Regions from separate parts of the Homo sapiens genome. Here regions 1, 2 and 3 are each linked to region 4. Evidence: fine-mapped expression QTL. A gene starts in region 4. Each other region holds a variant in brackets. All regions are shown on one strand. Distances are between the middles of the regions. Region 1 overlaps ENTPD7 (ectonucleoside triphosphate diphosphohydrolase 7). Region 2 overlaps DNMBP (dynamin binding protein). Region 3 overlaps DNMBP (dynamin binding protein). Region 4 holds the start of DNMBP (dynamin binding protein).

What was found.
Region 1: its variant is fine-mapped to the expression of DNMBP in whole blood (TOPMed, PIP above 0.99).
Region 2: its variant is fine-mapped to the expression of DNMBP in whole blood (TOPMed, PIP above 0.99).
Region 3: its variant is fine-mapped to the expression of DNMBP in thyroid (GTEx, PIP above 0.99). The same link has a PIP of 0.9 or more in lung.

The regions. Positions count from the first base shown.
Region 1 is chr10:99,688,678-99,696,784 of GRCh38, forward strand. ENTPD7 (ectonucleoside triphosphate diphosphohydrolase 7) reads left to right here. Exons shown (of 13, transcript NM_020354.5): 7 at 17-73; 8 at 2,708-2,841; 9 at 7,279-7,445. It also overlaps a transcript of COX15 not described here. Among named protein-coding and RNA genes, the nearest start is that of ENTPD7, 33 kb to the left of the region's middle. The variant C/T (reference allele first, on the strand shown) is at 4,277.
Region 2 is chr10:99,958,366-99,966,472 of GRCh38, forward strand. The region is part of intron 3 of DNMBP (dynamin binding protein); the gene reads right to left. DNMBP-AS1 (DNMBP antisense RNA 1) reads left to right here. Exons shown (of 5, transcript NR_024130.3): 5 at 1-633. Among named protein-coding and RNA genes, the nearest start is that of DNMBP-AS1, 35 kb to the left of the region's middle. The variant C/T (reference allele first, on the strand shown) is at 3,725.
Region 3 is chr10:99,927,283-99,935,389 of GRCh38, forward strand. All of the region lies in intron 4 of DNMBP (dynamin binding protein), which reads right to left. It overlaps DNMBP-AS1 (DNMBP antisense RNA 1), which reads left to right. Exons shown (of 5, transcript NR_024130.3): 1 at 1-17; 2 at 878-958. Among named protein-coding and RNA genes, the nearest start is that of DNMBP-AS1, 4.1 kb to the left of the region's middle. The variant C/G (reference allele first, on the strand shown) is at 3,598.
Region 4 is chr10:100,005,139-100,013,245 of GRCh38, forward strand. It overlaps DNMBP (dynamin binding protein), which reads right to left and starts at 4,809. Exons shown (of 17, transcript NM_015221.4): 1 at 4,700-4,809. RefSeq lists enhancers at 1,236-1,315, 1,866-1,925 and a silencer at 4,582-5,101.

The DNA of each region.
Region 1 (8,107 bases), 320 kb before region 4:
TCTGTTTCTTACTTAGGGGTTTATGCATGGATTGGAATCAACTTTGTTTTGGGAAGATTCGACCACGAGGATGGTGAGTAATATTGTCTTTTTATGACAGTTTACCTAAGGGCTGAAGATTTAAGTTATAACCTATCAGTAGCATGTAAATGCAAATTTTGAGTTGTTTTTCTTTTTTCAAACATAAGATGCTTCATTTTCCAGTCCTAATTTGCTTTCTTTGATTTCTTTTTAACTTTTTAATATGGAAAGTTTCAAACATTCACAAAAGTAGAATAATAAAATGAACCTCCATGGACCCATTACCCAGGCTCAATATTTACTAATGTTTTGCCATTTCTCCCCCATATCCCCCCATGTATTAAAGGTTTTTTTTTCTCATTGAATGTTTTAAAAAGCAAACCCCAGACATGTAATTTTTATTTTCATGTATGTCAGTATGTATCTACAACAGATAAGGGGTTTCAAAATGAACAAAAAATATATCCATAATGCCATTTTTAAATTTAATAGAATTAACAATTTCTAATATCATACAATACGTATCTAATACCCTATCCAGGTATAGATTTTCCTGATTTTCTCAAGAATGTTTATTCGTAGTGGGCTTGTTCAAATCAGAATCTGAACAAGGGTCATGCATTGCATTTGATTAATATGTCTCTTTAGTCTCTTTTAATCTATAATTGTTAACCTTACCACCTCACTCCCCTGCCTTTAAAAGCAAGAAAAAATTGGATCACCTGGTAGAAAGAATTTGCCACATGCTAGATTTGATTGACTGCATCTTTGTGGGGTTAACATGTTTTCTTTAACATGTTTCTTATCCCCTCATATGTCCTTTAAACTGGAGGTCAGATATAGATGTTTGATTAGACTCAGATTCAATTCCATCTGCAAGACTAAATCATAGAAGGCGCTGTGTGTTTTCCACTACTCACATCAGGAGTTTTGTAATGTCTGGTTGACTCACTTTTTGTCATGCTCAGACTGATCAGGTATTGAGAGTTCAAGTATTATCAGCCTGATCTAACTTAGTATTAAAATTCCTTATCTGCCTTTCATGGAATTGTGGTAATAGCCAATTGTGATCATTGCTTGGACATGTTTTTCATTAGAGATTGCAAAATGGTGATATTTCTAATTCTGTCATTCCTTCTGCATTTAACAGCTAGAATTTTTATGTAATGAACTTTTCTTGATCAACTCTTTGGTTACCCTGACATATAGTTCTTATGGGAAAGACAGAATAAATCCTTGATTCTTTTTATTTATCACATTTCTGAATAATGAGTTGGTGTCTAGCAACTTCCAAAGGTAACCAGTGAAAAAAAAGTTTTAATTATTATTATGAACTCATGGATTTTAATATATTAGATGCATTAGAGCCCATCACATTATTAGTATTTTAAGGAGCATCTTTAGGTTGGCTGCTGTATCCTTTTAATATGACCCCAATACTCTTTTATATTCCCCTTGCTATCTGGTACAGCAATGTATTCCAGGGTCATCTTGTATACTTTCTACCCTAGACCTGGCATTGGCCTGTTTTTAAAAGAGCCCTGGTTTCTTTTAGTAAAAGATGGTATTTAGAGATTATTGGTCCAGATACCACAGGTGGTCATTACTCCTGGGATATCATTGCTTCTAGGCCTTTCAGTGAACACAGCTAGGAAATATGTATTTTTTAGAAAGAGAAAAATAAATGAGTTCATAGTCATATTTCTGACTCATATGTAAGATTATAGGGTGCTATTAATTTATTTGATTTTTATACCTATATCCTTTTTGTTCTGTTATGCTGAATCTTTGTTCCTAAAGATATTGACATAAACATTTATTTGTTTTATTCCACAATATGTTTCATAATTTTTTTTTTTTTTTTGAGACAGTCTTGCTCTGTCACCCAGGCTGGAGTGCAGTGGTGCAATCTCGGCTCACTACAACCTCCGCCTGTCGGGTTCAAGCGATTCTCCTGCCTCAGCCCCCTGAGTAGTTGGGATTACAGGTGTGCAGCACCATGCCCGGCTAATTTTTGTGTTTTAGTAGAGACAGGGTTTCACCATGTTGGTCAGGCTGGTCTCGAACTCCTGACCTTGTGATCTGCCTGCCTCAGTCTCCCTTCATAATTTTTAAATAATAAAACCAACAATATTGTTAACAAGACTACTGCGATGTAGCTTAAGATATTTGTTTCTTTTGTCCTTAGGCTATATCCTACTAGGGATACGTAGTCAAAATGTCATGTTTAAGTAATTCACAAGAATTATTCTTTGTGTAATATATAGTTGATTCAGTTAGTATACTTGTTTGCTTTCTTTTTTTTATTTTGAGACAGGTTCTCTGTCACTGAGGCTAGAGTTTAGTGGTGCGATAATAGCTCACTGCAGCCTCAAACTCTTGGGCACAAATGATCCTCTGGCCTCAGCCTCCTGAGTAGCTGGGACTACAGGTGTGCACCACCATGCCCAGCTAATTAAAAAAAATTTTTTTTTTTTATGAGAGTGTCTCACTATGTTGCCTAGGCTGGTCTTGAACTCCTCGGCTCACATAATCCTCCCACCTTGGCCTCCCAGTGTTTTGGGATTACAGGTGTGAGCCATGGCACCTGCCTGCTTTCAAATTTTCAAGGGATTGCTGTTTTGGGGGTTTGACTTAATTTTATTTTTTAATTACTAGGGCCTTTTTGTTCTCTTATTTATTTCAGAATCAGATGCTGAGGCTACCCAGGAATTGGCAGCAGGACGGAGAAGGACAGTAGGGATACTGGATATGGGAGGAGCCTCTCTCCAAATTGCTTATGAAGTTCCTACCTCAACCTCTGTCCTTCCTGCAAAGCAGGTACTTTACCTTTTAGGGAAATTTAGTTGCTAGGAATGCTAGTATTTGAGAAGGAAGGACACTGTCTTTGGACTTAGACCAACCTACCTGGCTCTAAATATTTGTTCAGATACTTGCTAGCTTGCGTTATCTTGAGTAGGTTACCTCTCTGAGCCTCAGCTTCCTCCTGTGTGAAAAAGGAATAATAATAGTATCTACCTCATAAAGTTATGAGGATGAAATAATACCATGTTTGTAAAGCATTTAGCAAACTGTCCAGCATAAGTGTTCAATACATTTTAACAATTATAACTATACTAGGTATCTCCTGCCATTGCTGAGGATAAACATGATAATGCATTTACATTCTGGAGCACAGTATTTGATACATATCTATTGTTCAATAAATGTTATTCCCTTTCCCCTTACTGATGATTCCATTCTGGGCCTTCTAATAATCCTTACCCCACTAGAATGTAAAGAATGTATTTTGAGGGAGAAGTTTCATCCTACACAGACACTTTTTGTACAGCCATTATGTACACCTATTATGTACACCCATTATGTGCAAGGAATAGACAATATTATGTACAAGGAATAGACATGTGAGTTACACTGTCCCTAAAAACTTATAATTTATCTGTCAGTGGAGACAGCTTGTGATATCAGGGAGACTGTAGCAGTGCTTAACTTGATCTAAACCAGGGCTTCTCATCGTTGGCACTCTTGACATTTTGGGTCAGATAATTCTTTGTCATCAGGGGTTATCCCATGCATCATATGATATCTCTTGCCTATACCAGATGTCAGTAACAACCCTCCCCCTTCCAGTTGTGACAATCAAAAGTGTCTCCAGACATTACCAGATGTGTGGGGCAGGGTGGAAATTGCCCATCATTGAGAACATCTGGTTTAAACAGAGAGCTGTGGCAATATGGGGACTGGCAGCCAACTTAGCTTGCAAAGTTGAATGGGAGCCATTCTTGCTTCATGGAAGGTAAAGTATTTACCTGGGCCTTGGATGAGAGTAGGCTTTTTTTTTTTTGCAGAGTGGAGGCTGAGGGAAGGCCACCTGCATGGAGGGAACACTATATACAAAGGCACAGAAAAAGCAGCACAGAGGCCAGAATGTCCAGGGAATGACGAATAGCCTTTTGCAGTATAGGATTTTCAGGTGTGCTAGTAGTTAAGACTGGGAAGATAAGATGGAGCTAAATCATGAGCAGTATTGAGTGCTATCATAAGGGGACTGGCTTTTATTTCCATAGATAGTGGAAAACCACCAAAAGTTTTTGAGTAAGGCAGTCACATGGGCCTCAGTTTCATTTATAAAATAATTAAACTGTGAAGGTCCTTCTCAGCTCTGAATTTTGTGATGATGTCAGTTGTGTGACTGTGATCTGATCTTTTTGTAGTGAAAAAATTTTTGTGTCAGTAGGAGAAAGAATATAGGTCA[C/T]GGAACCTTGAGTGAGAAGTAATAAAGGGCTGAGTTAGACAAAGTAAGTGGAAATGAAAGGGAGGGGACAGATTTCAGGGGATAGTTTGGAGTGAAAACCCAATGTAATTGAGCGATTGATTGTGGTAGTGTGAGTAGGGTGGGAGGATGGCCAGCAGTGCTGAGGATCTATCCTAGATAACCAGAAGACTGAGGAACCCAGTAACTGAGAGAAGAGCAACAGGGGTAAGGGCAGGGGTGATATTAAGCAAACAGTATTGTCCTGAGAGATCTGGATGAGAGCGTCTATCTGGTCTTCTAGTTCAGAAGTTGTAAAACTAATGACTTCAATTTTGGATATATTGAGTTTAAGATACCCAAGGAACATATATGTCAGAATATCCACAGGACTGTTGGAAATGTGAGTTTAGCAGTCAGCAGAGAATTTCATGCTGGGGTTGGAAATGTGGGGGACTAACTAGGTTGTGATACTTTTTAGTCTATATTCGTTAGTATGTATTTAACAGGTAAAACGAAGGCATGGATCTGATACTAAGAAATAGGTGACAAGCGGGACTGGGGCTTCAAGTCTTAAAGAAATGACTTTTGTGTGTGTGCAGATTTAGAAAGGAACATGGTTATGGAAAGCAACACTGGTACGGAATGCATACTTGCAAGCAACAAATTAGATTTACATATAGCAGGCCGGGCACGGTGGCTGACGCCTGTAATCCCAGCACTTTGGGAAGCCAAGGCGGGTGGATCACCTGAGGTCAGGAGTTTAGGACCAGTCTGGCCAACATGGTGAAACCCCGTCTCTACTAAAAATACAAAAATTAGCTGGGCAGGGTGGGCAGGCACCTCTAACCCTGCTACTCAGGAGGCTGAGGCAGGAGAATCGCTTGAACCTGGGAGGCAGAAGTTGCAGTGAGCCAAGATCGCACCACTGCATTCCAGCCTGGGTGACAGAGTGAGACCCCATCTCAAAAAAAAAAAAAATAGTAACTACACATAGCAATATAATGGCTCTTCAAGATGAATCTTAGTGCTTGGTAAAAATGAAAGAAACTGTGAGACAATGGCATTTAAAACATTTTAAATAATCCTGAATGCCTAATATATTTTTTTGTACAACTCACAAAGTTATGTACATTCACAAAGTTGTGCAGCCACCACTATTGAATTCCAGAACATTTCATCGCCCCAAAAAGAAACCCCATATTCACTCCCCACTCATTTCCCATTAGCAGTCACTCCTCATTCTCTCCTCTCCCTACCCCTGACAACTATTCATCTACTTTCTCTCTCCAGTGGATTTGCCTATTCCGGACATTTTGTATAAATGAAATCATACAATATGTGGTGTTTTATGTCTGGCTTCTTTTATTTAGCAAAATGTTTTCAAGGTTCAGCCATCTCGTGGTATGGGTATTTCATTCCTTTTTAATGGCTAAACAGCATTCCATTGTATGACCAACCATGCTGTATTTTGTTTATCCATTTATCAGCTGATGAACATTTCAGTGGTTTTCCCTTTTTGGCTATTATGCACAGTGCTGCTGTGAACATTCATATACACATTTTTCTATGTACATAAGTTTTTTTGTTTTTTTTTTTTTTTGAGATGGGGTTTCACTCTTGTCACTCAGGCTGGAGTGCCATGGCACGATCTCGGCTCACTGCAACCTCTGCCTCCCAGGTTCAAGCGATTCTCCTGCCTCAGCCTCCTGAGTAGCTGGGATTACAGGCACCCACCACCATGCCTGGCTAATTTTTGTATTTTTAGTAGAGACGGAGTTTCACCATGTTGGCCAGGCTGGTCTCGAACTCCTGGCCTCAAGTGATCCACCCTCCTTGGCCTCCCAAAGTGCTGGGATTATAGGCATGAGCCACCATGCCCACCCCAGTTTTTGGATCTCTTGGTATGTACCTTGGAGTGAAATTGCAGGGCACAATGGTATTTTTCACAAATTAAAAAGAAATACATTCAAAACAAGAATCCTCATTTTATAATAATACATATATACAAAAATTATACATAACACATTAGAATGGTTGCCCATGGCAGAGAATGGAATGAGATTAAGTATGAAGATAAAAGAGAATAAATAAATAAAGCAAAAGAGAGGCTTTGCCATGATAATGTGGAATGAGCTGAGGAATATGATTAATTCAGCCTCTGCCCTTGAGGTTCAAGAAAAAAATATAGCACCTTTTCATTGGCGGTACAATAAAATTGAACTTTCCCAATCCCCAAACCTGTCATAAGGAACCTTAGGGCTTCTTGGATAATGTTAGAAAAGGCCACAGAACCGGGCACAGTGGCTCACACCTGTAATCCCAGCACTTTGGGAGGCTGAGAAGGGCTGATCATGAGGTCAAGAGATCGAGAACATCCTGGCCAACATGGTGAAACCCGTCTCCACTAAAAATACAAAAATTAGCTGGGCATGGTGGCACGTGCCTGTAGTCCCAACTACTCAGGAGGCTGAGGCAGCAGAATTGCTTGAACCCGGGAGGCGGAGGTTGCAGTGAGCCGAGAGCATGCCACTGCACTCCAGCCTGGTGACACAGTGAGACTCTGTCTCAAAAAAAAAAAGAAAAGAAAAAGAAAAGGCCACAGAATAGATCTTATGATGATCCACAGAGTTCCTTAAATTTATTTTTATTAAAGGATGTTTTCCTATTAAAATAACACATTCCCATTGAGGGAATTGGAAAATACAGAAAAATACATGTGAGAAAATGATATCTGTAGTAATTCTACCTCCTATATAACTACAGATAGTGTTTTGGGTTTCTAATTTCATATTTAGTTCTTAATTTAGTGTCTAATTTGTACCTTTTAGTGCAGTCTTGTCATTTTGTGTCTTTGTTTAAAATAATGCTATGAGGATGAAAGAATGCTTAAGATGTTTTAAAGAGTAGTCATAGAAATGAAGCCTCGTGTATTAGCAATGTCATAGCTTTCTAGAAGGCAACCAAAACTAAAATTCCCTTTTTCTCTTGGTATTGTATTATAGGAAGAAGCTGCCAAGATCCTGCTGGCTGAGTTCAACCTGGGCTGTGATGTGCAACACACTGAACACGTGTACAGGGTTTATGTCACAACTTTTCTGGGTTTCGGAGGCAACTTTGCCCGGCAGCGCTACGAAGACCTTGTTCTGAATGAAACTCTTAACAAAAACAGGTACATTTGATATGGGATCTGAGTTTCTGAAATATAATGTCAGGCTGCAGATATTAGGGAGAAATACTCACATCCTCCTAAGACAGATAAGTCCCTGCTTCCTCCTTCTTTCTGACTACCCCTGCCAATGGGGTAGCATCTCTTAAAGACCTCTATTAGCAGTCCCACTCTGGGTGAGGGTGCATTCTGATCTTTGTTATTAGGACTCATAAAGTACAGTAGCTTATTGTGATCTCTTGCTGTTTCCCATATTCAGACCTAACATCATGGGAAAAGGGAGATGAATTAAATTGCCAGTTTAAAATGTACAATATATAGTGTAGCTGCTAGCAGTTCCTTCTGCATGGAAGTGTTCAAGACATGTTTGTTGAATTACAGTGCAGTTGCATCTTTTGTGAGAGTTCAGTTCTGTAGTATGTCTAAAAGATAAAAAGCAAGCATAGTTAAAATTAACTTTTAAAATGGTCTCTCATCAAATTCATAATAGTCAGTTTTTCCTTTAGCATTGGACAGATCACAGATTCTTCATTTGAGTACCAGATGAAGTAGTTAGACCTTAATGTACAAACAGTGGTGGGATTTCTTGTTTCTTTTTTGTTTTTTAAGTCTGTAAAATTATTTATTTTATCATTAAGCACACTGAAGGAAAGCATAAGAGAAAG
Region 2 (8,107 bases), 47 kb before region 4:
CACTTTTACTGCTGAGGAGAAGCACGAGTAACTGAGTTATATGCCTGAACCGTCTGTTTATTTTCACATAACACCATTTTATGTGCAAGAATGAATAACAGACAACTATGTTTATTCAGACTTAGATATCTGGCAGATGTTTCCTCCAAAATGAAAGTGAGTCTGAAACATCAAGGAGAACAAATGACAGTATTTGTTGCCAATGATAAAATTCCAACTTCCAAGAGAAAATGAGAATTTTGGAAAACTTGTATCTACTACCATGGGCTTGGCAGCTTTCCCATACTTAAAGATTCTTCTGATGAGATAGTAACAAATATGATTTTTTCACATTGTATGTTGAAATGGTCAACATTTGGAATAACTGAGTAGCTAATTGAATCAATATTTCCTAAATGACAAATGCATGCTGGTATAAAATCATTCATGGCTAAAAGATTCACACTCCAAAAGCAAGATAGATTAATGAATTTTAGTGTAATATTATGAAAGTTCACCGACGTAGTTTCAGATCCCACACTGCAATTAACTCGTAAGAAATTACCAATCGTTGAATTTTGGTGCAGTGTCAACGATGAATATTTGCAATTATTTGAAAAGACTATTAAAATACCTTTTCCTGTCTCCCATTGCATATTTGTGTAAGGCTGGATTTTCTTCACATAATTCCATGAAAACAACACATTGCAACAGATTGAATACAGATGCAAATAGAATCTGGTTTTCTTTTAGTAAGTTGAACATTAAAAATATTTACGAACATGTAAAGCAATGTCATTCCTCATTAATTTTTTTTTGTTTGGAAAGCTATACTTATTTTTCATAAAAATATGTTATTTACGTAAATATGTAATGGGTTTTTAATAGACTGATAAACAAGTTTTAAAAATTCCCAGTTGTAATAGCTAATATGATAAATATCAACAGACACAGCCCACATAAACAAAAGCTCTTTGGGAAAAATACAATAATTAGCCAGGTGTGGTGGTGCCCACCTGTGGTCACAGATACTTGGAAGGCTGAGGCGGGAGAGTCACTTGAACCTGGGAAGTCAAGGCTGCAGTGAGCCATGGCTGTGCTACTTGCACTCCAGCCTGGGCGACAGAGAAAGACACTGTCTCAAAAACAAAAACAAAACAAAAAAACCACCCAAAAAAACAAAAAAGCTCTTTGGGGTCTCAATAACTTTTAAGAGTATACAGGGAGGCCAGGTGCAGTGGCTCACACCTGTAATTCCAGCACTTTGGGAGGCTGAGGTAGAAGGATTGCTGGAGCAGAAGAGTTCAAGATCAGCCTGGGCAACATAGTGAGACCGCGTCTCTATTTAAAATTTAAAAAAAAATTAGCCGGTGTGGTGGTGAGCGCTATAGTCCCAGCTACTTGGGAACCTGAGGCAGGAGGATCGCTTCAGCCCAGGAATTTGAGCCTGCAGTGAGCTATGATGGCACCACTGCACTCCGGCCCGGGCAACAGAGTGAGACCGTGTCTCAAAAAAAAAAAACAAAAAAAAAACAAATCTTTAGTAAAGGGTTCTTTGTTGGAGATGAAGGGTATGGACAATGAATGTTCAATCATGTTCTCCAGAGGCCTTCTTGAACTGTCCCTATCCTGAAAATATATTATAATGAGATCTTAAAAGAAGGTACCAATAATCACCACTTTTGTTTTTGAAAATAACCAATTTTCAGGTTATCCTCACAAAACGTAAGCTGAACAGTTAGCATCTGTCTTATTGTAGAAGAAGTTGAGGTAAAGAAAGGATAAGAGCACAGTATATGTTTCTGGAAAAATGAAATTAAAATTCAGTTCTATATGATTTATGATTTAATTTTGAAAAAATTACTCTAATTTTATCAACTGTTTTATAACAAACTCTTGATTATCTGATTATAAGCTATTCACTTGTAGATTATCTATTTTAATCTTACAGTTAAGATTAAAGTTAATCTTACCTATACTTTTATAGTTAAAATTTCTTTCTCACTCAGTACCCAAGTCAGAGGTGCTCAAGGAATGCACCTGGCCTAGGTAAAATAAGATCTGGGTAGCAAAGCACCTGGCAAAATCCTATGAGTCATTTTATAGTCAAGCACATTGGAAAACTGGGTTATCTTTTATGCTCTTGATTTTTACATGCTCTTGATTTAAAAAAAAATTAGGCCAGGTGCGGTGGCTCACGCCTGTAATCCCAGCACTTCGGGAGGCCGAGGTGCGCAGGATCACCTCAGGTCAGGAGTTCAAGACTAGCCTGGCCAACATGGTGAAACCCTGTGTCTACTAAAAATACAAAATTAGCCAGGTGGGGGGGTGCACGCCTATAACCCCAGCTACTCGAGAGGCTGAGGCAGAAAAATGGCTTGAACCTGGGAGGCAGAGGTTGCAGTGAGCTGAGGCTGCACCATTGCACTCCAGCCTGTGTGACGAGAGCAAAACTCCATCTCAACAACAACAAAAAATTTAAGTCTACTCAGGCAAGGTGGCTATTGCCTGTAGTCTCAGCTACTCGTGAGGCTGAGGTGGAAGACTGCTTGAGCCCAACAGTTCAAGGCTACAGTGAACTATGATCGGACCACTGCACTCCAGCCTGGGTGACAAAGAGAGGCCCTGTCTCTAAAAAATAAAATAAAATAAATAAATAAGAAAAAAAAAAACTAAGTCTGTCTTATATTCCCAAGTAGGTTACAGTTCCTTAATGGTAGGTACCACCTTCTCTTTGGTATCTCAAGAGTCTGGTATGATGCCTTTTGCATGGCAAGCACTTGATGTTCATTTGCTAATGATGATTATTCTTCAACTCCAACTCCCAAATAAATTCATTACATTCTGCTTTCCAAACTGACTTCTGCTGCTCATTTCCTTTTTTCTTCTAATTCCTTCTTTCAAAATATTTCTTCCCTTTTTCTTTTTTTTTTTTTTTTTTTTTTTGTGGAGACAGGGTCTCACCCTATCACCAAGGCTGAGTGCAGTGGTGCAATCATGGCTTACTGCAGCCTTGACCACCCGGGCTCAACTGATTGTCCCACCTCAGCCTCCTAAGTAGCTGAGACTACAGGCATGCGCCACCATACCTAATTTTTATTTTGACAGGGTCTCACTATGTTGCCCAGGCTGGTCTCGAACTCCTGGACTCAAGTGATCCACCCGCCTGAGTCTCCCACAGTGCTGGGATTTCAGGTATGAGCCACTGTGCCCGGCCTCTTCCTTCTACTAATTGCTCTATGCTACGACCCTGGTCCAATTCCCACCATCTCACCCTTTGAAATCTTGTCCCCACGCATTATTTCTTCAAGTCTACCAATTGATTCATGACAAATCAAGATTACAAATGCACCAGTTTTACCATCTCCCTCCCCGGGCCAAACTTTTACCATGAAGCACAAGGAGCCTACTGCTAATGGCTTCTTCCTCAGTAATCCTATTCTTATTACCCAAAATATATAAAAAATAAATTTGCTCTGGACACTCTCTGTAGAGGTTTACTGAGCTACCAAAAGACTTATGCTTTCACCCCAAAGCAAACTTACATTCATGATTATCCAGTCACAACTTTCCCCTTCTCCAACTATCCAATATTATCTCACCTATGATATGAGACCCTATTCCACACAAGGAGGTTTTTATTGTTATGAAGCCGCATCATTATTAACCCCAAAGCCTTACTCCAGTTACACTGTCTCTCCATCTGAAACCTAGGCTTGCTTCTCTAAAAAACCTTAGAAGCTCA[C/T]ATTCATCTTGGCTGTCTATAGCCTAGAAAAGAAATTATTGTCTATATCATGAATTCTGACACTTGTATTTTTATATACTATACAGCACCTAACATAAGATTTTACACTTAGAGAGAGTTGCCCAAAATATTTTCACAAATTTGATATTATTTGGTTTCAGTGTTCCCCAAAAATAGGGTCTTGGTCCTGTATTTCTACATTCCTTTAACTTATGATTCCCTATCCCTTGGTCAGAAGTTGGGGTCCTAAAAAATCACAAGGCTGGGCGCAGTGGCTCACGCCTGTAATCCCAGCACTTTGGGACGCCGAGGCAGGGGGATCACGAGGTCAGGAGATTGAGACCATCCTGGCTAACACGGTGAAACCCTGTCTCTACTAAAATTACAAAACGTTAGCCGGGTGTGGTGGCGGGCGCCTGTAGTCCCAGCTACCAGGGAGGCTGAGGCAGGAGAACGGTGTGAACCTGGGAGGCGGAGCTTGCAGTGAGCCGAGATTGTGCCACTGCACTCCAGCCTGGGCGATAGAGCGAGACTCCGTCTCAAAAAAAAAAACAAACAAAAAACCACAAGTAATTTTTCCCCCTCTGGCCCTAAGGCCATCCATCGAGAACACAGAGGGAATGCACTGGTGACTGACTGCTGTTCAGACACAATGGGCCTCTTGGTGAAGGGGAAGAATAAAAGCGTGCCATAACTCCCACTCTGCTGGCTTTGAAATCAACTGGCTTTCTTAAAGCTGTAGAATTATGCTATTTTCCTTGTTTTGTCAGATCCCCCTGAACCCATATAATAAGGCTTGTTTTCCTATCTATTTTCAACAGGATAACTGTTTTGATAAGCTTTATTACCTGATGGACTGCTATTTTATTGGTTATTTCTACACAGTAAAGGTGAATCTTGAAAAACATACACAATTTAGAACCTGGAAAGTACTTTAGAGATTATTTAGTTCAATACCCTTTTTATTTTAAAATTCATTTGATTATTATTATTTTTTGAGACAGGGTCTCAGTCTGTTACCCAGGCTGGAGGGCAGTGGCTCAATCACTGCTCATTGTAGCCTTGACCTCCCAGGCTCAAGCAATCCTCCTGCCTCAGCCTCCTGAGTAGCTGGGACTACAGGTGTGTGCCACTGTGCCCAGCTAATTTTTTTTTTTGTTATTGTGGAGATGGGGTCTCATTTGTTGCCCAAGCTGGCCTCAAACTCCTGGGCTCAAGTGATCCTCCCACCTAGGCCTCCTAAACTGCTGAGATTAAAGGTGTGGGTCACCATATTCTGCCTCAATGCCCCTGTTTTATAGCCCTGTTACTGAACCGTAAGTCTCTGTTTTTCATCAGAAAGAGTCATACAAGCTATTCCCCTGGGGTCCTAGGTGATTCCTTAGGAACGGATCACTTTTTCCATTAGATTGGTATCTCCAGAATAACTAGTGGTCATTCCCAGACTTCTGAAATGCCAATATGAGGAACTCCTGCACGAGCAAGACCAGATTTTGAGAACAGAAAAATAGGAAGTGTGGTGACCCTTAGGGTCAGCCTGAGCCTTTGACTCATGCACAATTAATCCCAGCCACACTGCTTGTTTCCTCTGGTTGGATTTTTTATTTGAACAGGAAATGCATTAGGAATAAAATGGTAAAAAGGAGTGCAGGTCTTCTTAGAATCGGATATGAGCAGTCTGACTGCAGTCCTGGGTTCCTCACGGACTCCTTTTGGGCTGTCTCTAAATGCCAGGGGAACTATGTGCTTTATGCAGCCTGACCACGTAGAGTATTTTATTCAGGTTTCCATACGAGCCATGTCAGAACTTCTTTCCTGAGAGTTCACATTCATGGCATCACAAATTTATAACACATGTGCTTTGACTGATGAATACCACTGGTCAATTTATTTTTTATTGGCCTGTTGTTTGAGGGGGCAGGTTATAGGCAAGGGATGAGGATTCTGTCTTACGTGAGGCAATTATTAGTGATATTTTATCACTTGTCATAATATGCACTAACTTGTTTCTCTCCTCTCTGTCTTTTCCTTGTCCTATTCTCTCTCTTTTTTTTTTTTTTTTTTTTTTTTGGAGACAGAGACTTGCTCTGTCGCCCAGGCTGCAGTGCAGTGGTGCGATCTCGGCTCGCTGCAACCTCTGCTTTCCGGGTTCGAGCAATTTCTCCTGCCTCAGCCTCCCGAGGAGCTGGGATTACAGGTGCCTGCCACCATGCTGGTAGTGATGGGGTTTCACCATCTTGGCCAGGTTGATCTCAAACTCCTGACCTCGTGATCCACCCGCCTCAGCCTCCCAAAGTGCTGGGATTACAGGCGTGAGCCACTGCGCCCAGCCTCCTTGCACTAATCTCTTATTTTGGCTTTGTTCTTTACTCCCCTCCACCCCCCACCTTTCTTTTCTCCTGTTTTTGTTTTTTTTTTAGGATAGTCAGGGGCACTGGCCACCTGTTTTGATTCTTCTTCTAAGAGACAGACTTGTTTCTCAGTTTAAATATAACTCGAGGCCAGGCGTGGTGGCTCATGCCTGTAATCCCAGCACTTTGGCAGGTCGAGGCAGGCGGATTGCTTGAAGTCAGGAGTTCGAGACCAGCTTGGCCAAAATGGTGAAACCCTGTCTCTACTAAAAATACAAAAATTAGTTGGGTGTGGTGGCACACACCTGTAATCCCAGCTATTCGGGAGGCTAAGGCATGAATATCACTTGAACCAACGAGGCGGAAGTGGCAGTGAGCAGAAATTGCGCCACTGCACTCCCGCCTGGGCGACAGTGTGAGACTCCAGCCCAAGGAAAAAAAAAAAATATATATATATATATATATTTTAACTCAAAACAGTAGGAATAGTCCAAAACAATTACATAGCTTCAGGAAAAGGAAGAAGGGTGACATCTGCTGGAACAAAGATCAGTGGTTCTGATTTCACATAGAATCTCTCTGAGAACAGACACACAAAACTTCACAGACTTATCCCAGAAACAAGATACCCAAAGCACATCAATGAAGCCCAGGCGCCCAGGTTAAGACTAATAAGAATAGCTAGCATTTACTGAGCGCTTACCTACTACCACATGCTTTCCATGTACAACCTCATCTAATCCTCACAATCACCCTGAGGTAGGTATTATATTATTATCCTCATTTTGTAGATAAGAAAACTGAGGCTGAGAGACTTAAGTAACTAGTCCAAGGTCACAGCTATTAAGTGGTGGACTTGGATTTAAACTTAGGCCTGTCAGAATTCTTATCCCCTAAGCTATACTGCCTGCTCTAAATACATATAGACATCTATAAATTACACATATATTTTTTCTCTTATTAATCCTAATGATACTTCTTAAAGGTAAGTAAGTAACAGTGAACTAAAAAGGCACGTGGTAAAACACAACAGATCTCAAACATTATCTCACATACTTTTTTTTTTTTTTTTTTGAGATGGAGTTTCGCTCTTGTTGCCCAGGCTGGACTGCAGTGGCGCAATCTTGGCTCTCTGCAACCTCCACCTCCCGGGTTCAAGCAATTCTCCTGCCTCAGCCTCCCAAGTAGCTGCAATTACAGGTATGCACCATCATGCCCAGCTAATTTTGTATTTTTAGTAAAGATGGGGTTTCACCATGTTGGCCAGGCTGGTCTCGAACTCCTTACCTCAGGTGATCCACCCGCCTAGGCCTCCCAAAGTGCTGGGATTACAGGCTTGAGCTACCATGCCTGGCCCCACATACTCTTAAGGTTTCCAAATCCCCTCCTGACCTATTCCATCATCAACATTTCATTTACAGACACACTGATCTAATGGAAAAAGTGATTTTCAGTCTAGGAAGTTGAAGCGCCATCCCAAGCACTAGACTTAAAAAACAGGAAACCTAGATGCAAGTCTGATAAACTTGCATATCTGGCATAAAACAATACTTTCATTTTTTAGTGATTTTGTTTCCCACCAGTAAATACCTGTTGATGTGACTTGTCACGTATACAAAAAGAGAAATTAAAATCATTTGTGCACAAGCTAAGTTTCCCAGAAAAAGGCAAATTGCATAGGTATAACTAACTTCTCCATCCTCCAAGCCTTGTGTTTCCAAATTAAAAGACAGAGCTAAAAAAAAAACGTGAAAGGCATAGAAGGAAAGCTGACTGGTCAGTGTGTTTACTGGCAGTAGATTATCACAGAGAGGAGAACAAGATAAAACCATGGATAATTAGTACATCTCATTCTAGTCTCTCTTTCCCAGTGTATCCCCCTGCCCACATCCTCTTCCTTTGGATTCCACTTACATCTTTAAGCTTATTAGGCTTAACTGGTTAAAAGGTAGTCAAGATAAAATCTAGATTCCAGGTCCTGGCCTGACCTTGAGTCAGTCTTCAGACAGGTGACTCACGATGCCAGATTCTT
Region 3 (8,107 bases), 78 kb before region 4:
AAACCATGGAGTGACAGGTGGGTGGCGCAACTTATAAAGGGGAAGGGAGGTGGGCAGATAAAACACAAAGAAATGGCCATTTATGAGCACCTACTATGTTCCGGATATGTGACTGTTTTATTTTTCTATCTCATTATGAGAGAGGTATTATCTTCACTTTACAAATTGAGAATCCGAAGCTCCAAGAGGTTAAGTAATTTTTGTCAAGTTAAGGCCATTTAGTAAATGGTGGAGCTGAGATTTGAACTCAGGGCAGACCAACTCTGATGCTTGTTCCTTTGTGTAATTACACAGTGTTCCCTTGTAATATTCAGGAAGGGCAATGGCGTGAGAGAGCTAACAAAGAACGTTAGAATGCTGAAAGATTTCTAGTAAAGACAGAATTTGTTATAGGTCAAGAAGGATATTAGGGGTACAAAAAGGGGTGAACTAAATATGAATATACTTTCAAAAGTTAAGTCCTCAAAGATAAAGAGAGTTGTAGAAATGGAAATGATATTGGGTGGAACCGAGCTGGTTTCAGGGAGATCAGAGGGCACATTACAACACTGCAGAGAGAAGGGTTTCACTCCTGTTAAGTCAAACAGAATAAACACACTTTGATTACAGTTGGGAGGCTTAATACAATAAGGAACTAAACATAGGAAACAAAGTTCACCAAAGGAACAGATGCGGGGGGAAGGGAAGAGGAACAATACAAAAACCAATATAAAGAATCACAGAATCAGACTTTTTTCTTTTTTAGCTGGAAGGAATTTAGAAGTTATCCAGTCCCTATCATTTCAGAGAGAAAATGCACCTAGGAAAAAATGACTAGCTGCTAAAAACCTCAGCCTCCCAACTAAAGCTGGGTTTGGTTTCATTTTTGTCTTTATAGGTGCAGGTTAAGAGCCTGTTAGGTCCAAAATGGTGCCCCAGAAATTCAAGTTAAGTCAAGCCCATGTTGGAAGACCACCAGGTAAACCACCGGCCATCCCAGGACCATAGCAGGCTTATCTTTTCAGTCTGTGGTGGCCCCTAGTACAAATCTAACCAGCCAGCCCATTCTGAAGGAGACCTAGACGAGAAACTTTCTACTTAAGGGGAGGGCATGAGATGGATTTTTCAGATCATTCACATTCTCTGACTAACCTTTATCCTCTGGTCACAGCCTGGACCCCAAAATTGGCCAGAACCAGAAAGGCCGTTTGGCATGAAGACAACATACAGCATACACACACACGAAAGGTTTAACAGAGAGTTCAGTAATTATAAAAATAACACAGTAGAAATAAAGCTCACTTATGAGAACTGAAGAAAAGATATAATGGCAAGAAAGAAAGAACCTCTACATGATAAAAGACTCCTAATATTCTCATTTCACAGACAACGTAGTTAAGGCTCAGTGAGATGAAGTGATTTGAAAGCTAGAAATAATCTTCTGGAATCCACAAGAGTGTCAGTACTCATCATTCACTTAAGATTCCTGAATGTCAAGGAGTGAACAATCTATAAAACAAATCAGGGCTACTCTGGGCACACTGCCTATGGGGTAGCCCTGCTCTGAAAGGAGCGGTAAAAAAAAAAAATTAAAATGAAGGCCTGGCAATGGTGGCTTACACTTGTAATCCCAGTACTTTGGGAAGCAGAGGTGGGTGGTTCGCTCAAGCCCAGGAGTTCAAGATCAGCCTGGGCAACATGGTGAAACCCTGCCCCTACAAAAAAATAAAAAAGTAGCCGGGCATGGTGGCATGTACCCATAGTCCCAGCTACTCAGGAGGCTAAAGTGGGAGGATCTCTTGAGCCCAGGAGTTTGAGGCTGCAGTGAGCCATGACCGTGCCACTGTTCTCCAGCCAGGGGGACAGAATGAGATCTTGTTTCAAAAAAATAAATAAATAAAAATAAAGTCAAGTCTTCTTTTCCATTAATGTCCAAAGAAGTGTAGAGACTGAGAGAAAAAAAAAAAAACATGCCAGGAAAATGAATTTTAGCTTGATGCCCTGATAATAAACTTGCTGCCTCGACAAGATGAACAAAAACATGAAAGTAAGAAAGGAAAGATACTTGAGATTAGAGACATCTGAAAAAACCAGGAAGCGTAAATAAAAGTTCCCATGAGAGCGCTATCCGAATGTTGCATATTTTTAGCACTGTATATATACTCTTGCTCTGTACAATGCCTTCCAAAGTAATTAAATCTCTAAGGTTGTTCTCACTCAAGGTGCACTTGATAAGAAGTTCAGGGCCCGGGCTCCTTAAGAACACAAGTGCTCCTAGTACCTGGTATAACTACCCTTTAAATCTATCTTTATGCTTTATCTTAAGAAGGCTGGCTGAGTTCATACCTTGGGTTTTCTTGCTGTTTTGCACGAACTCTGAGCGCCTCAGGGTGCTGGGTGCTGTGCGGCGGAGGCAACTATTCCTTCTCCAAGTCTCTGGGCCATTTAATTTTTTCTCTTCCTCTAAATGCCAGATGTTCTTCTCTAATGACGAGCTCTGAGGAATCCCCAAATGATGTCCTCCTTGTTCTCCCCTGGTACACTGAGTCTGCAGACCATCCAGAAGGATCCTGCTGCCCCCATGTGCCTTTGTTCTTGGTATGTCAGTGCCATTATACTCCAAATTCTCCATTTGATGGAGAGAATCTGTCCCTCTGGAATTACGAGATTTATATGCACAGTTTGCAAATAAAGCATCATAGCCTTTATTTTCTGTATCAAAATCACCCTGATCCATAATATGAGTCTTTGCTTTGGGATACATGTTGTCATTTTGATGAACATTCCTGTCCCCTTCATGGTATTTGATAAATTCCTTATCTTCATTGACACCATTCGAATCTGAAAAGCTCACAGGCTGACCATCAGGATAACTCCCAGGAACATGATATAAATTGCTGTGTTCTCTACAATAAAAATTAGTTGCCCAACAATCCTCAAGATTATGGTTAACATTCTCATGGTCTATATACCACAACTGAGGTTGACCTAAATTCGCTGAAGAATCATCCAAACCCCTACAGTCAGTCAACTGTTCAGCTTTTTTAGAGTCCTCAGGATTATAATTCAGATTCTTACAGTCTGAGTAGCCATTTGCCTCCCCGTATCCACCAGCTTTCGAGGTCACATCTGGGCTTCTCGTAGGTGAATTATCCTTCGTCCCAGGGCTGAGACTCTCATAATCTACATTTTCTGGACTCCTATAACCATCATGACCTCCGTGGTACACACAGCCCTTTCCACTTTCATGTGCTTCCCCACAGTCCATATAGCTTGGTTCACTCTGTTCAAAATCCCAGTATCCACAATCCCTTTTTCTGTAGGGCTGATGCTGTCCCTTGGCCCAGTACCTGGGATCCAAGTCATTTTCTCTGTAGAGTCCATCCAGCACTGTAAGGTTCCTTTTCCGTACACTCCCGTAGTCTTCATACTCCCAGCTGGAGTCCCAGTGCCTTTTCTCCTCCACTTCCCTTTCTTTTCTAGCCTTCTGGGTTTCACACATATTCTATGTGCTTAAAGACAAAGGTTTTACTATTCTTTTCCATGGGCCTGGGCTGGGCTGTGGACAGGTGCAGTCTAGCCTAAGGCTGGATTTGTCCTGCTTAAAATGTCTCCCAA[C/G]CATTCCAGACACTCTTCTCGTTGCTCTAGTCGGAGCGCAGTGAGATGTGGAGTTATTTCAACCTCAGGATCCAATCAGCGAGCTACTCTATCTTTCTCCAGAGGCCAGAAGATAATGAGTAACTAGTATGCATGTGATTGGAGTTGCCAGCTTTGTTTGGTGTTTCCCTCAAGCTGGTCAAACTGGCTTGGCTGCTTTACTTGCTGAAGATAGAGGCATTCTGCTACTCCAAAGGTTTTGCAGGAAAAGTCGTGTGAAAGAGAAACAGCACCCCTTTAGAAGTCCAGGTCAGGTCATATATCAGTCTCCCCCGCCTCTTTAATCCTTTAGTAAGCCACCAGGGGTATAAACAAGTGCTTTCCTTCTCAAGCTGCACCTCCATTCCCCATCCTCCAAGTCCACCTTTCTAATCCTTGAACATCTGAAACCTTTCAGGACTTCATCCCTTAACTTAGAGTCAGGACTCTTCTGACTGCTTTGCTTTTCTGGAATTGAAGTCACCAGTTAGTGTACACTCCAATCGCAAGCTGCTGAAGCTCCCACCTGCAGACAGTTAGTCATACGACTGAAGGAAGAAAAAGTACTTCCTTTTACTTTGATCTGGTGAGTAGGTGATTTTATAGCGTAAACATTCTTCCCAGAATGGAGTTAGGTATGCTTTCACATTTTCCCAGATACTTGTCATGCCAGGGAAGCATCAAAAACATTCATTTCTTAAACCTCTTTTCTAGTTAATTCATACAACATATTTAAGAAGTCGAAAATGAGGCCAGAAATCAAAAAGGCAGGTAAATGGCTATTTAAATCAACAAATATTAGATGGTTACCTATCATAGAGGAGGCATTGTGGAACAGAAAAAGACAAACAAATTAGTCCCTGCCTCTTACAATGCAGAAGCAACACGCTTAAAGAAAGATCTAATGTGATAAGTGCTATGGAGCAAAGACAAACAGCAACAGCACCAAAGCAAAGTCCCTGGCATGGCAAGTGGAGGCTTCAGGGAAGCGGTTGGATGTGAACAGTGACTTCTAGGAGAAGCAGGATCTCTGCAGACTTCACATATGGAGCACTAAGAAATGGGGAATCATCTGAAGGATATAATACGTGGAAAATAAGAGAGGAGGCTGAAGAGATAGGTTGGGGTGGACCCCAGAGGATGTCAATGACATTTATTTTATTCAATGGAAAGCAAAGAGTCATGAGGTTTTTGAGCAGGGGAAACACATGCTAAGAGACAGGCCTTAATAAGATTACTCTTTTAGCTGTCTGGTCATTTCTTAGATATCTAGGAATGATTCCTTGAACTTTAATCCTTATTTGTGAAATAATATCCAGAACCCTGAGGAAAACTGCCTTATATGCTTTGTTAATAATTACATGTTTACTCTTGGGTAACTACTAATTCTCTCTGGAACTCAATCTACCCATCAATAAAATGAGGCAGTTGGCCACAATGACTCCTCGGATTCCCCCAGCATGTTTCTAGATCACCTGCCCCCTCAAACAAAAGGCCAATAAAAAACAAATTGACCAGTGGTATTCATCAGTCAAAGCACATGTGTTGTAAATTTGTGATGCCATGAATGTGAGCTCTCAGGAAAGAAGTTCTGACATGGCTCGTATGGAAACCTGAATAAAATACTCTACGTGGTCAGGCTGCATAAAGCACATAGTTCCCCTGGCATTTAGAGACAGCCCAAAAGGAGTCCGTGAGGAACCCAGGACTGCAGTCAGACTGCTCATATCCGATTCTAAGAAGACCTGCACTCCTTTTTACCATTTTATTCCTAATGCATTTCCTGTTCAAATAAAAAATCCAACCAGAGGAAACAAGCAGTGTGGCTGGGATTAATTGTGCATGAGTCAAAGGCTCAGGCTGACCCTAAGGGTCACCACACTTCCTATTTTTCTGTTCTCAAAATCTGGTCTTGCTCGTGCAGGAGTTCCTCATATTGGCATTTCAGAAGTCTGGGAATGACCACTAGTTATTCTGGAGATACCAATCTAATGGAAAAAGTGATCCGTTCCTAAGGAATCACCTAGGATCCCAGGGGAATAGCTTGTATGACTCTTTCTGATGAAAAACAGAGACTTACGGTTCAGTAACAGGGCTATAAAACAGGGGCATTGAGGCAGAATATGGTGACCCACACCTTTAATCTCAGCAGTTTAGGAGGCCTAGGTGGGAGGATCACTTGAGCCCAGGAGTTTGAGGCCAGCTTGGGCAACAAATGAGACCCCATCTCCACAATAACAAAAAAAAAATTAGCTGGGCACAGTGGCACACACCTGTAGTCCCAGCTACTCAGGAGGCTGAGGCAGGAGGATTGCTTGAGCCTGGGAGGTCAAGGCTACAATGAGCAGTGATTGAGCCACTGCCCTCCAGCCTGGGTAACAGACTGAGACCCTGTCTCAAAAAATAATAATAATCAAATGAATTTTAAAATAAAAGGGGTATTGAACTAAATAATCTCTAAAGTACTTTCCAGGTTCTAAGTTGTGTATGTTTTTGAAGATTCACCTTTACTGTGTAGAAATAACCAATAAAATAGCAATCCATCAGGTAATAAAGCTTATCAAAACAGTTACCCTGTTGAAAATAGACAGGAAAACAAGCTTTATTATATGGGTTCAGGGGGATCTGGCAAAAAAGGAAAATAGCATAATTCTACAGCTTTAAGAAAGCCAGTTGATTTCAAAGCCAGCAGAGTGGGAGTTATGGCACGCTTTTATTCTTCCCCTTCACCAAGAGGCCCATTGTGTCTGAACAGCAGTCAGTCACCAGTGCATTCCCTCTGTGTTCTCGATGGATGGCCTTAGGGCCAGAGGGGGAAAAATCACTTGTTGTTGTTTTTGTTTTTTTGTTTTTTTTTGAGACGGAGTCTCGCTCTATCACTCAGGCTGGAGTGCAGTGGCGCGATCTTGGCTCACTGCAAGCTCCGCCTCCCAGGTTCACACCATTCTCCTGCCTCAGCCTCCGCAGCAGCTGGGACTACAGGCGCCCGCCACCATGCCCGGCTAAAGTTTTGTAATTTTAGTAGAGACAGGGTTTCACCGTGTTAGCCAGGATGGTCTCAATCTCCTGACCTCATGATCCCCCTGCCTCGGCGTCCCAAAGTGTTGGGATTACAGGCGTGAGCCACTGCGCCCAGCCTTGTGATTTTTTAGGACCCCAACTTCTGACCAAGGGATAGGGAATCATAAGTTAAAGGAATGCAGAAATACAGGACCAAGACCCTATTTTTGGGGAACACTGAAACCAAATAATATCAAATTTGTGAAAATGTTGGGCACCTCTCTCTAAGTCTAAAATCTTAGGTGCTGTATAGTATATAAAAATACCAGTGTCAGAATTCATGATGTAGACAATAATTTCTTTTCTAGGCTATAGACAGCCAAGATGAATGTGAGCTTCTAAGGTTTTTTAGAGAAGCAAGCCTAGGTTTCAGATGGAGAGACAGTGTAACTGGAGTAAGGCTTTGGGGTTAATAATGATGCGGCTTCATAACAATAAAAACCTCCTTGTGTGGAATAGGGTCTCATATCATAGGTGAGATAATATTGGATAGTTGGAGAAGGGGAAAGTTGTGACTGGATAATCATGAATGTAAGTTTGCTTTGGGGTGAAAGCATAAGTCTTTTGGTAGCTCAGTAAACCTCTACAGAGAGTGTCCAGAGCAAATTTATTTTTTATATATTTTGGGTAATAAGAATAGGATTACTGAGGAAGAAGCCATTAGCAGTAGGCTCCTTGTGCTTCATGGTAAAAGTTTGGCCCGGGGAGGGAGATGGTAAAACTGGTACATTTGTAATCTTGATTTGTCAGGAATCATTTGGTAGACGTGAGGAAATAATGCGTGGGGACAAGATTTCAAAGGGTGAGATGGTGGGAATTGGACCAGGGTCGTAGCATAGAGCAATTAGTAGAAGGAAGAGGCCGGGCACAGTGGCTCATACCTGAAATCCCAGCACTGTGGGAGACTCAGGCGGGTGGATCACTTGAGTCCAGGAGTTCGAGACCAGCCTGGGCAACATAGTGAGACCCTGTCAAAATAAAAATTAGGTATGGTGGCGCATGCCTGTAGTCTCAGCTACTTAGGAGGCTGAGGTGGGACAATCAGTTGAGCCCGGGTGGTCAAGGCTGCAGTAAGCCATGATTGCACCACTGCACTCAGCCTTGGTGATAGGGTGAGACCCTGTCTCCACAAAAAAAAAAAAAAAAAAAAAAAAAAGAAAAGAAAAAGGGAAGAAATATTTTGAAAGAAGGAATTAGAAGAAAAAAGGAAATGAGCAGCAGAAGTCAGTTTGGAAAGCAGAATGTAATGAATTTATTTGGGAGTTGGAGTTGAAGAATCATCATCATTAGCAAATGAACATCAAGTGCTTGCCATGCAAAAGGCATCATACCAGACTCTTGAGATACCAAAGAGAAGGTGGTACCTACCATTAAGGAACTGTAACCTACTTGGGAATATAAGACAGACTTAGTTTTTTTTTTCTTATTTACT
Region 4 (8,107 bases):
CAAATATTAATACTTCCAGAGGCACAGAGACTGGGGCAGCCACTGTGGAGAGGCATCTGGCACTATTTAATCAAATTCAGTCTCTGCAAGCCTATAATCCAGCAATTCCACAGAAATATTATACAGCTTTGTAAGGAGACATGTAGGAAGATGTTCACTGCAGCAATATTTATGGTGTTAGGGGGTAGGAACAACTTGAGTAACCACTCACTACACAGAGAGCAGATAAAGCAAAACCAATGGATGCAAACAGCATGGGGTATAAATGCAGCATTCCAAAGCAGAGAATTAGACACATAACAATATGGATGGATCTTAAAAACACTACTCAGAGACCTGGCATGGTGGTTCATACCTGTAATCCCAGTACTTTGGGAGGCCAAGGCAGGCGGATCACCTGAGGTCAGGAGTTCGAGACCAGCCTGGCCAACATGGTGAAACCCCGTCTCTACTAAAATACAAAAAAATTAGCTGGGCGTGGTGGCGCATGACTGTAATTCCAGCTACTCAAGAGGCTGAGGCAGGAAATGGCTTGAACCCGGGAGGCGGAGGCTGCAGTGAGCCGAGATCTCGCCACTGTACTCCAGCCTGGGCAACAGAGTGAGACTCTTGTCTCAAAAGTCTCCAAAAAAAAAAAAAAAAAAAACCAAACTACATAAAGGAAAATGAATTACAGCATTATAAATCAAGATACATACACATAAAACAAACATTCCCACTTTGCAAGCTCCTACATAAACAAAAGGAAGCACATGCAATGCATTAAGAATGAACACCTGTGAGACATGAGATGAATGGGACAAGGGAATTCTACAACAAAACCAATCTTTTAGATTCCTTGCGTGTTATAAAAGAAAAACTCTTATGACCTACGATAAACACAGAATTGTTTCCTTCCCCAAAGTTCCCAATTTTCCAAACAACAAAAGCTACTCTGGTTGCCAGTTCTGTTGATGAGTAACAGCTTTTCATCCTTTTTCAATCAGGAAGGGAAAATTCAGGGATCAGCAAAGTACAAAAGGGATGAGCAGAGAATATTTACGAAACAGTGTTTTTGTTCTCATGACCTGACAATCTGACTGAAAAAGACCTGATTACCTCTTGATTTGGGATGATTCAGCTACAGGCAGGTTGGTGTCAAGTTTTCAGGTCATCTGAAGCGATTTACTTTCAGAACCTCTTCCCACGCAATCCTCTTGCCTCCCTGTAGAAATAATACCCTGCACTACTTGAAAACTTAAAATTCTTGAGCTAGAGAGGGCCCAGTTATTTTACAGATGAGGAAACGAAGACTCAGGGAAGAATTATGGTGTGAGTCACACAGCTCTAGCTTGAAAAGGTCTCCCTGACTCAGCCCTTGTCCTCTTCCTGTCTATTCTCAACCCAGCAGCCAGTTATCCTTTTAAAACATAAGTCATCATCAACTTCACTGTTCAAAGCTCTCCAACGGCTTCCCCCTCACTCAGTGTAAAGGCCAAAATCCTTACAATGACCTACACTGATGTGTCCTCCCCACTCCCACCCCCTCTCATCTGCTGCCACCTCCCCCCAACCCACATCCACACTGACTGGCCACCATGACCTTGCCACCCCTAACATGCCAAGCATGCTCCTGCACCAGGGTTTGGAACATGCTCATCCCACTGCCTCCTGCTCACTTCCTCATTTCCTTCCAGTCTCCCACCATGAGTTAGGCCAGGTGTGGTGGCCCATGCCTGTAATCCCAGCACTTTGGGAGGCCAAGGTGGGTGGATCGCTTGAGGCCAGGAGTTCCAGACCAGCCTGAGCGACATAGTGAAACCCCGCGTCTACTAAAAATACAAACATTGGCCCAGCGTGGTGATATAAGCCTGCAGTCCCAGCTTACTCGGGAGGCTGAGATGGGAGGATCACTTGAGCCCAGGAGGTTGAGGCTACAGTGAGCTGTGATCACGCCACTGCACTCCAGCCTGGGTGACAGAGCAAGACTCTGTCTCCAAAAAAAAAAAAGTTATCTCAGTAGAGGCTTTATTTGACCCCTCTATATAAAAAGTAAATCCCCTACCACACATATACATACACACACACACACTCTTACCCTTTCCTGACTCTAAAGTTCTCCACAGCATTATGATCCTTTGACCTATTCATTCACATATTTGTCTGTTTCCACCCAATTAGAATGTGTCTGTTCCACGAGGGCTTAGTCTGTTTTGTTCAAACTGGTTCCCCCTCCCAGCACCCACAGCATACACAAGTGCTACCACGACCCCGGCACACACAGGTGCCCCCCACAAGCACATACAGGTGTTCCTCCTCCCGGCACACACAGGTGCCCACCCTCTCAGCACACACAGGTGCTCAGTGAGAATGTGTTCAGTGAATAAACAAGTAAGGACCAAAAGCCATGCCTTCAGACTCCTCACACAATGCCCTATGTGCCTGCCCTCAAGTGCTGGTTCAATTCTTGGTGGTCACGTCCTTCAGTCAGAAGAAAAGATCTAGAAATCTAAAAATGAAATAATACATTTTAGCTACTCTATTTCACCTCCCACAGCTGCCTTTCATAGCAGGGAGGATAAAGAACACAACTAAAAGTTAACATCTTGGTTTAACGGCTCTTTCATTAAAGAGCTCATTTTACTGCTGCTACTTAAGAACTTTCTGCCTTTCCAGGCAAGAAACTAATAACTCATAATTAACTCCTGACCAACAAGACTAAGTTAACCAATCTTGAAAATTAGCTTATTCAGATGTTTTCCAGAGTGTGTATAATAAGAAACTATTTCATATTAATTGAATTGGTGTTGCAAAACTTTCCAGAAGTATTCTGAATGAATTCTAAGGATGCTTTGGCAGATGATCAAGCACATTCGAGAATTTCACAGGAGATAATCTCGTAATAATACCATGTTGTAGGTAATCCATTAGCTGACTCTAGAAACAACAGAATACTAAACCTAGAAAATAAGCCAAAAGCCAGGCTCGGTGGCTCACGCCTGTAATCCCAGCATTTTGGGAGGCTGAGGCAGGCGGATCACCTGAAGTCAGGAGCCAGAAAAGAGGAAGAGATTGATGGAACGTTGAGGGAAATGCCCTGCCTTGGGGCTGCAAGACAAATAAATAACTGGTGCATATTTAAACAGATCGTTTATGAAGATTATTATTATCTCAGCCAAAAAATACACAATATGAACACTGTATAAAAGTCAATTTATCACATTCTCTGAGTCAGACTGTTCTTGGCTTATTGCAAAAGTTATCAGTGCACTGCACGAACCCCGTTCCCAAGCCAGACTTGAGCTACTCTCCACCCTCCAGAAATCACTCCATTGCAGCCTCTGAATTTAAGTGAATTTAACACGTAAGTATCTGCAATTTGAAAAGTCACTTTTCACTTATTTTAGCCCAACCCTGATAAAGTGACTGAGAGAGCTGAGAATAATGAATTTGAAGATTCGCTATGCCCCATTATGCAGAATTCTAAAAATCTTTTCTTCTTAAAACATTTTTATTATCACAATGAGTGACGTGTTTCAAGTTAACATGTAAAATCGGAGAACTCGAGACAGAAGAGGACCTTAGAGATCCTTTAATTCAATATTTTAGAGAAAAATGGGTAGAGGATAAACTAACTTGCTGATCACCGTGTCGGTATTCATGCTGTGAAAGTAATAAACGGAACACCAACTGAGAAATGATCCCCGAATGCTGTCAGGTACTTCAGTCTTGCAAAAACTACTACAGATTAATCAGTCCTGCTCATCCGTTTAACTCAGCTATGTAAACAAGCAGAGCTAGACTATGCTCAAACCCTAAATATTAGCGTTACCACTCGCCTGCCACATACTACAGCATCATTAGTTATGAAAGTGTTTTAATACAAGATCTTCATGTTTGTGTAAAAGAATTACTATAAAACAGACCTAAAGGCAAGTTACCCATATTCCAGAATAAGTGAGTGCCAAAAATATTCACCCTTCATTACAGTACAAATGAGACAGGCAGTAATAATGAGACTGCATTTAAAGTTGTTTTTGCACTTAAAATTTAAGTCTATACTCCTCATCTGCATCAGGCCCCGGCCTGTTTGGTAACCTCAATATTCCTTTACTAAAGTGACAGCATCACCACCCTTTGAGACACAGATGCCCGGTGGACATCTGTGCCTGCAGCAGGAACGCGGGTGTCCGCGGGTTTCTGCAAAACTCCACCATGACCAAAGCTGCATCTCCAGCTGAACAGGTCTAACCCTTGCTTCGGAAGCCATCTGTCCCTGTCTCCCTGACACAGAATCACGGCCTCCTATGCCGTAAGGCTCCGAACATCTGTAAAATCAGCGGGGTGGACTAACGCAGAATTCTTTTTCCAGCTCTCAAAATTCCGCCTCATTGCCGGAGTGGCAGGGCGGTGCAGAGAAAGAGCCCTGGGCTTGACACCGCTTGAAAAGCCCACGTTCGCATTGCTCTGACCACCCCTCCAACTCCCGGGGACTACAGGAGTGCGAGGGGGCCCGCTGCGCCCCACTGTCCCTCGCGGGCTCCTGGCCCACAGAGCGCAGCACAGCGCCGCCGCTGGGAAAGGGCCGATACAGGCCTAGCCGCGCGGCGCGGCGCGGCGCGTCTCTCGGGGTGCGGGTCCCCTCCGCCCGCGGCCCCGGACCGCGACCCCCGCTCCCCGCCCGGCCCCCGCCCGGCTCCGGCCTGGCCCGGCCTCTGACCTGCTTTCCGCCGCCCGGCGGTCCCTCGGCGCGGCAGGCAGTTGCAGCCGCCAGTCCCCAGCCCGCTGTCACCTCCGCCCCTGGAAGCGGCGGGCGGGTCGATCCCGTGTGAGTCAGCGCGCCGCCCCGCCTCCCGCTCAGGCTTCCGCCTCTGCCGGCGCGGTCCGCGCGGCCCCGGGGGCGCCAAGCTCCGCTGCCCGCGCGCCCACCTCTCCGGCGCCCGCCCCGCGCTCGCGCCCCCTGGCGGCCGGCCCGGCCCTGCTCGCCTCGCGACGTCAGAGGGGCGTCGCTCCCAGAACGGCCACCGGGGAAACTGAGGCACGGGGGCCCGCCCCCGCCGCAGCGCGCCGACACGGCTCGTCGGGCCTCGGCCTCACGCAGTCCTACGTGCAGCCCCGGCTGCGGACAAGTTCCTCCACTCTTGCTGTTCCCCCACTCCCGACACCACCCTCCAACCTAGAAAAAAGTCAAAATTCCATTCAGAGAAGTCCAAGTCGATTCCTGTCTGCGTGTGATGCTGTCCTCTTTGCTACCCCGAGGCAGTTTCCCTTATTATGCCACACAATACTCGCTGGGGTTCGCCTCTATCTGTCCCATTTTTTTCTGAGGAAAGTCTCTCAGGACATCTTTGAGAATTTGAGAGCAAGAAATGACAGAAGCAAGAACTGGGCAGGGCTGTCAGAACTCCTCCTCCGACTCAGTTTCTGAATCCCCGCAGTATTCCCGTTGTTTGTTTAAAGACCACGAAGTTACACAGCTTGGCTATGTTGCTGGAATTGCTGCGCCTCACGTTTCTGGAATCTACCTAGAGGATTCTGAAGAAGGCGGCGAGTCTATGACTGTGCATGCACAACAAAAATAAATATTTCACAAATCTCATCCCATGCTGTATATGTTTCTCCTTCCCTTTGCTTTTTAAAAACTTGTGGTTAAATATATATCACATGAAATTTACCATTTTAATCCTTTTTAAGTGTACAGTTCAGTGGCATTAAGTACATTGACATTGTTCTGCAACCATCACCACCATCCAGCTCCAGAACTTTTTCATCTTCCCAAACTGAAACTGTACCCATTAAACACTAACTCCTCATTCTCCAGCCCCTGGTAACCATCATTCTACTTTCTGTCTCTATGATTACTCTGGATACCTCATATAAGTGGGATCATACAATATTGTCCTTTTGTGAGTGGCTTCTTTCACCTAGCATAATGTCTTCAAGGCTCACCCATGTTGTAGCATGCGTTAGAATATCCTTCCTTTTGAAGGCTGAATAATACTCAATTGTACGTATATAACATCTTTGGTTTATCCCATCTTTCTGTGGACATTTGGGTTGTTTGTACCTTTAGGCTATGGTGAATAATGCTGCAATGAACATGGGTGTACAAATATCTGAGTCCCTACTTTCAATTCTTTTGGGTATATATCCAGAAGAATTGCTGGATCATGTGGTAATTCTGTGTTTAATTTTTTGAGAAGCCACCATACTGTTTTTTTTTCCTTTGCTTTTTGAAGCATGTTAACACTGTAAAGAGAACATTTTGTAGTAAAATATCAACGTTCGGAGAGTCTTTAAAATTCTTAGCAATGCTTCATTTGCCTGTAAAACTGTGACTTTTCGGCGGATCACGAGGTCAAGAGAACGAGACCATCCTGGTCAACATGGTGAAACCCTGTCTCTACTAAAAATAAAAAATTAGCTGGTCATGGTGGTGGGTGCCTGTAGTCCCAGCTACTCGGGAGGCTGAGGCAGGAGAATCGCTTGAACCCGGGAGGTAGAGGTTGCAGTGAGCTGAGATCGCGCCACTGCACTCCAGCGTGGTGACACAGCGAGACTCCGTCTCAAATAAATAAATAAATAAATAAATAAATAAATATTTTAAAACAAGTGACTTTTCTTTCCTCAAGAAAGTAATTAACATTGCAAATCTATTGTCTTTATTTTTGGATAATGTTATTAGCCAAAATAAAAATAACTTATTATTCAGTTTCCTACAATTTTGTTTTCTGTGGATGTAGCTTTCTAAAGTTGTTTGGAGTCAAGTATGCCATATGAAATTCAGATGAAAAATCAAGCATTTCGTTTTATTTATTTTTTTCGCCACGTTGGTCAGGCTGGGCTTGAACTCCTGACCTCAGGTGATCCACCCTCCTCGGCCTCCCAAAGTACTGGGATTACAGGCATGAACCACTGCGCCCAGCCTGGGGATCGGAGTTTTTTGTTTGTTTGTTTTTTTGAGACGGAGTCTCGCTCCGTCTCCCAGGCTTGAGTGCAGCGGCGTGATCTCGGCTCATTGCAAGCTCCGCCTTCTGGGTTCCCGCCATTCTCCTGCCTCAGCCTCCCGAGTAGCTGGTACTGCAGGCGCCCGCCACCACGCCTGGCTAATTTTTTTTTTGTATTTTTGTAGTAGAAACGGACTATCACCGTGTTAGCCAGGATTGTCTCCATCTCCTGACCTTGTGGAGTTTTTAAAGATAATTTGGCTGGTGGGGTCTTGAGAAGTGGGGAGTGCTGATTGGTCAGGTTGGAGATGGAAACATAGGGGGTCAAAATGAGGTTTTCTTGCTGTTTTCTGCTCCTGGGTGCAATGCAGAACTGGTTGAGCCAGATTACCGGTCTGGATGGTGTCAGCAGATCCATCAACTGCAGGGTCTGCAAAATATCTCAAATACTGATCTTAGGTTTTGAAATAGTGATGTTATTCCAGGAGCAATTTGGGAGGTTCAGGCTCTTGGAGTCAGAGGCTGCATGACCCCTAAACTGTAATTTTTTTTTTTTTTTTTTTTTTTGAGACGGAGTCTTAGTCTACCGCCCAGGCTGGAGTGCAGGGGTGCAATCTCAGCTCACTGCAACCTCCACCTCCCGAGTTGAAGCGATTCTCGTGCCTCAGCCTCCCTAGTAGCTGAAATTACAAGCATGCACCACCACGTCCAGCTAATTTTTGTATTTTTAGTAGAGATGAGGTTTCACATTGTTGGCCAGGCTGGTCTCAAACTCCTGGCCTCAAGTGATCCATCCACCTCAGTCTCCCAAAGTTCTGGGATTACAGGTGTGAGCCACCACTCCCGGCCTTAAACTGTAATTTCTAATCTTGTAGCTAATTTGTTAGTCCTGCAAAGGCAGACTGGTCCCTAGGCAAGAAGGGGGTCTTTTTGGCAAAGGGCTATTATCAATTTTGTTTCAGAGTCATGAACTGAATTCTTTCCCAAAGTTAGTTCAGCCTATGCCCAGGAATGAACGAGGACAACTTAAAGGTTAGAAGCAAGATGGGGTCAGTTAGGTCTGCTTTCTTTCACTTCATAAGTTCCTCAGTTAAAATTTTGCAAAGGTGGTTTTATACTTTTCATTTATCAATGAATTCTTACTGTACATTTGTGATGTAACAGGCATTGTGCTAGGTGTT